Regions from separate parts of the Homo sapiens genome. Here region 2 is linked to region 1. Evidence: fine-mapped expression QTL. A gene starts in region 1. The other region holds a variant in brackets. All regions are shown on one strand. Distances are from middle to middle.

Evidence for each region. PIP is the estimated chance that this variant, and not a neighbour inherited with it, causes the effect. A credible set is the group of variants that fine-mapping cannot tell apart.
Region 2: its variant is the best candidate, but not a certain one, in a credible set for the expression of DERA in skeletal muscle (GTEx, PIP 0.60).

Annotation. Positions count from the first base shown.
Region 1 is chr12:15,909,983-15,912,898 of GRCh38, forward strand. DERA (deoxyribose-phosphate aldolase) reads left to right here and starts at 1,350. Exons shown (of 9, transcript NM_015954.4): 1 at 1,350-1,432. The coding sequence starts at 1,402. RefSeq lists enhancers at 1,040-1,784, 1,785-2,528 and silencers at 1,208-1,267, 1,288-1,637.
Region 2 is chr12:15,960,343-15,963,258 of GRCh38, forward strand. DERA (deoxyribose-phosphate aldolase) reads left to right here. Exons shown (of 9, transcript NM_015954.4): 5 at 2,471-2,605. Among named protein-coding and RNA genes, the nearest start is that of DERA, 50 kb to the left of the region's middle. The variant A/G (reference allele first, on the strand shown) is at 1,322.

The DNA.
Region 1 (2,916 bases):
GCTCCAGGCTTTCAGGGCCTGCTTTTCTCTTTTTCAAGGTTAATATAAAAAAGAAAAGTGCTATAGTATGTATGAGTAAGATCTACACACATCCGAAACATTCAACAGTGGCTGTGTGTGGACAAGGCTGAAAGCTCAATGTAGAGGAGTATACAAATATTACTATTCCTATTTAAAACAGCTCAGTAATTACTGTGTGAACTTGACAATAACATTAACAGCTTCCATTTTTTAAGTATCTACTGTATGCCATGTTATGTACTAGGTGCCTTGCATACATTCAACAGCTTTGCAAGGTGAACATATTTTGATCATCTCCACTTTACAGGTAAGTAGACAGACTATTATTTCCAGAACTGCCAAGTTACATTTATTAAATGGAAGAGCTGGTATATTAATGGGTTCAGCTCATTTTGAGCTCACTGTATTTCCCCTATACCAGGATGCCTTTCTATTCAGAACTTTGATGTCTAAAGTTACAGCAATGGAGATAAAATACATTATTGGCAGGATTGTTCAGAGACTCAAATGCTATCATACATCTATATATGATGTATGAAAGCACCTAGCACAATAACTGGCTCATGGTAGACAAATCATAACTAACTGTACTGTTTTCATAGCAGAGGTGCCTCTAAACGTGAGTACAGATAAGTTAACTATATTGAGATTGTGGAGTGACTCGACGATTTTAACCTCTTGGTCACAGAGAAATCAGGCTGAAGCATTTTACCTTTATAGAATCATAGTATTTTGAAGAACCAAGAAATTGTCAAGGTCTTCTTTTACAGATGAGAAAAATGAAGCTCGGAAAAGCAGTTAATTTGCCCAGGGTCACACATTTAATTATTGCCCGAGCTTGGCTAAGAAACCAGGTCTTCTGACTCCTAAGCCCTTGCCTTCTTCAGGCCACATAGCTGCTTCTTTTCATGATGTGTAGATTAGAAAAGTCAGTGTGCCCCGGGGCCCTTGATTGCACCTTGGTTTCCCTAACAAGGATATGGGATCCCTGCTGACATTTCAGACCTTAAGTTGCAGAGCTCTGCACTTGGATCTTCTTCCTTCTTGTTATATAATCTTACAGTTAAAAGTTTCTAGGAATATTTTTATTACGTGCAATTGGCAACTTCAGTATTTTTTAAAGGGTGTTGGTAGCATTATTTCCGGGAGCTACTTAGCGCTCCGGTTCGGTACCTCGTGGAGAAGACGGGGGAGGGGAGCAGCGAGATTTCCTTGCGGAGCAATATTCCTAGGGTACAGACCTCGTAGCCCGGGCCCGCGACTCCGCCCCGGGAGCGGGCAGGGGCGGGGCGAGCGCTCCAGCTGGCGGGAAGGAGGAAGGGCCGGGCGCGGCGCAGAGGCGGGCGCCTACCAGCCGGCAGCTCCGGAGCTGCCCGCGCCATGTCCGCGCACAATCGGGGCACCGAGCTCGGTAAGGGGCCCGCGGGGCTCCCCATCCCCTCTCCCTCGCGTTCAGCGCCGCCGGGACTAGCGCGGGGCCTGCTGCCGCCCAGTGCCCTGGCTGTGGGTCCCCGAGGGGTTTTCGCTGGGGCGGGAAGCAGTGGCGTCTGGTCAGCCCTCACCCCAAGTAAAGGCCGAACCCGGCACGTTCGCGCCGCTTGTCTTTGCACCTAAGCTTTTACTCTTGTATGCGGAAGGAGTAGGAAAGGGTTAGATTATTATCTTCCTGCCTTTTCGTTCACTCTAGCTCGCTGGTTGGAAAACCCAACAACCCAAAAAACAAAACCCAAAACAAACAACCCCCAAGCAGGTAAAAACAGATAAAAACCTTCTTTCTCCTCCTTTTAATAGAATACTTGTGTAATTTAATGCAGTATTTCCGTAGATAATTTTAACCGTAACCTTGAAGTGGCCGTGCTCGTGGAAAAGTTGTCAGCCGTCTGTGCTCAAAATGTAACACTGCAGATTCATGGGATTTTAGAGTTACAAAGATTTGTTAAAGTACCTGTATTATTTCCCAGTTTTCATCTTTTTTTATATTGTTCAAATACTGGCAAGAAACCTTAGTTCAGATTTCTTTTTTTTTTTTTTTTATTGATCATTCTTGGGTGTTTCTCGCAGAGGGGGATTTGGCAGGGTCATAGGACAGTAGTGGAGGGAAGGTCAGCTGATAAACAAGTGAACAAAGGTCTCTGGTTTTCCTAGGCAGAGGACCCTGCGGCCTTCCGCAGTGTTTGTGTCCCTGGGTACTTAAGATTAGGGAGTGGTGATGACTCTTAACGAGCATGCTGCCTTCAAGCATCTGTTTAACAAAGCACATCTTGCACCGCCCTTAATCCATTTAACCCTGAGTGGACACAGCACATGTTTCAGAGAGCACAGGGTTGGGGATAAGGTCACAGATCAACAGGATCCCAAGGCAGAAGAGAATTTTTCTTCAGATTTCTTAACATGTGAAAAATTTATAATTCAAACAGCAAAACCATGATCAAGAGAAGGTTTAAGCGTCTCGTTTAAGTATTATAGCTTGGATATCTGTGTATCCAGGATCTTTAACTTCTTACCTGTGTGACTTCGGACAAATTAATAACTTTGCGCTTAAGTTTCTTCATCTGTAAAATGGTTATTTTAGTGGTAGTTACCTTATAAGGCCGTTAGGAGATTAAATAGGATACATGTAAAGTAGTTTGGTATATTGTGGACACCTAGTAAGTCTTCAGTATAGATAGTATTAGTATATGGAGTTATGGTTTTAGGGGCTAATTTTGAGAAAATTGGCTGTAAATTATATGTAACACATACAGGTAGGTCCTTTTCGCCCTCCTTAAAAGTGACTGGTACTTAAACAGTCTGCACTTCCAAGAGGTGTTCTGGATTTTTTGTCGAATGGTAAGAGAGTAAATCTATCATTTTAAAGACAGTTGATTTACTAACCTGGTTGATTTTGTTTTAGTC
Region 2 (2,916 bases), 50 kb after region 1:
ATAATGATATGCGGGCTGGGGACGGTGGCTCACAACTATAATCCCAGCACTTTGGGAGGCCGAAGCAGGTGGATCACTTGAGGTCAGGAGTACGAGACCAGCCTGGCCAACATGGCAAAACCCCATCTCTACTAAAAATACAAAAATTAGCCAGGCATGGTGGCAGGTGCCTGTAATCCCAGCTGCTGGGAGGCTGAGGCTGGAGAATCGTTTGAACCTGGGAGGCAGAGGTTGCAGTGAGCTGAGATCATGCCCCTGCACTCCAGCTTGGGTGATAGACCAAGACTCCGTCTCAAAAAAAAAAAAAAAAAAAAAAAAAAACAACGATATGTGCAAAATGTGTAGTTGCGGTTCTGAGCAGGGAATGATATATTCTGCAGAGGTTGGTGACACCAAAGTAAGAGAAAGCATCGTCGTGGAGATAATTGCATTGGATCTTAAAGGATGAGGAGGAGTTCACAGTGTTAATAAGGTAGGGAACCACATGTTAGACAGAGGCACTAGCACGTGTGAAGGCACAAAGCATGTTCAGGGAACTGGAAAAGGTTTGCTGTTGTTGACTACAAAGGCAGGGCTCTGAAGACAGGGCAAAGGGGGAGATACAGGAGTTGAAGCTAGAGAGGGAGATCAGGGCAGAATTGCAGAGGGGATCCATGCCATGTGGGGGCATTTGGCCTGTATTCTGATGATAGGGAAGACACTGAAAGGTTAGAGGCGTGACGTGATCAGCTTCATGGCATAGTAAGTTACCTGATGGTACTGGATAAATTAGAAAAGGAGTGAAATGGAGTTAGGGGAGACTTGTCACAGTACATGCAGGACCTGATAAAAGCCACACAAAACCTAGAAGATAAAGGAGAGAGTGCATTCAGAAGTCACTGACTTCAGATAGACACGGTAGGACTTGGTATGACAGAAAAGTCTTTAAAACATTAGTTTGGTAAATGTGTATCTGTGTGTATATGGATGGATGAATAGACAGATATAAAATTAGATTCTAGTTTTAAGAGATGTTAGAGGAATATCCTGATGCTTTAAAAAGGGAGTCTAGGCCAGGCATGGTGGCTCACATCTGTGATCCCAACACTTTGGGGGGGCTCAGGCGAGAGGATTGATTAAAGCCAGAAGTTTGAGACCAGTGTGGGCAACAAAGATCTCTACAAAAAAATAAAATAAGTAAAAATTTAAAAGGAGTTTATAAAGGTCATTAGCTTATTAGGAATATATTAAAAGAAACATGGTGCACAGTATTTATATAGAATTGATTTATGAGGATTCCTGAAGTATTTGGCAGCTACACTTGTATAGACCTTAATTTTTC[A/G]TCAGCCTCAGTCAGTTCAGTTTTTGCTTTAAACAACAGAGAAACATGCTTTCCTCTAAGGTAACAGACCTAAGGAATTTTTTTAATTTTTATTTTTTGAGACAGAGTCTCGCTCTATCACCCAGGCTGGAGTGCAGTGGCGCGATCTCGGCTCACTGCAGCCTCCGCCTCCTGAGTTCAAGCAGTTCTCCTGCCTCAGCCTCCCAAGTAGCTAGGGCTACAGGTGTGCACCACCACACCAGGCTAATTTTTATACTTTTAGTAGAGATGGGGTTTCACCATGTTGACCAGGCTAGTCTCAACCTCTTCACCTCGGATGATCCGCTAGCCTTGACCTCCCAAAATGTTGGGATTACAGGCAAGAGCCACTGTGCCCAGCCCCAAGGAATTTAATATCAAGGTAACATGACAGGTTTTTTTAGAAACAGGGATGGAGAGTTAATGATGTGCATGTAAAAGATGTTACTATTTTTCAAGAGTGTAGTTGTGTTTTGTGTTTTCATTTTCCTCTTATTTACACTTGGCTCTGCTCTTCCCAACCCTGCCCCTGCCTCAATTTGGTGGACTAATTAGGTGTGTTTTCCTCCTGCATTCTCTTTTCTTTATGCTCATCTGCCAGGCTGGTTGTTTTTAACATAGGCAGTGGGAGGAACACATAGGACAGTTTGTTTACCACAGCTAAAGAGGTTCATGAGAGAATTAATCAAGATAAATCAAGGGTAAATGAGTAAATCAAGATAGCTAACTTGATCAAGATTTGGACCCAGAACTAGTGTGCTAGATAACTAGTGTTCATTAAGATAGGGCTACCACTACTATTTTATGGCTATCACTGTGAAGATAAAACATCTTTGCTGGTTACTTAATCCACCTTCATGAGCATCTCTGCAGCATCTTAATTTCAGGTCTTCCAGAAAATGATATTTGTCCTAACACTAATATGAGAGAACATTCAATTTCTTCACACTTATGCATAAGTGATGTTCTTAAGTGTCAGTGCATTGGTCTTTAAATGCTGATGTTTGGGGGTTTGGAATTCTTTGATGAACTACTACTGACCAATTGAAATTTGTTTTCCCCTCCCCCCCTTGCTTACTTTCTTTCTTCCCTCCTTCCCTCTTTCTTCATTTCCTTTCTTAACTCTATTAGTGGCCGCTGGATTTCCAGCTGGACAGACTCATTTGAAGACACGATTAGAAGAGATCAGATTGGCTGTGGAAGATGGAGCTACAGAAATCGACGTGGTAATTAACAGAAGCTTGGTGCTGACAGGCCAGTGGGAAGGTAGGTGCATGCTTTTACCTAAGAGAGTTTCACCATTCTTCCCTGGTGAATCAGATGATGAGGTAAGATGTGGTATGTTTTAGAGGTCACTGTTCTAGGTGACAAGTTAGTAGATCAAATGGTGAGTTTAGGAGAAAGCAGGCTAAGATTACCCATCCTTGTGCCCCTCATAAATCTAGGCAGTTGCCTACCTACATGAACTTTTCAGATCCTTTTGAGTGCTTAGGTGAATAGTTACTTCCATGCAATAGATTCATAACTTTTAAAACAATTTTATTTTACCAACATGCTTTTTCTTCAGAAGGGAAAAG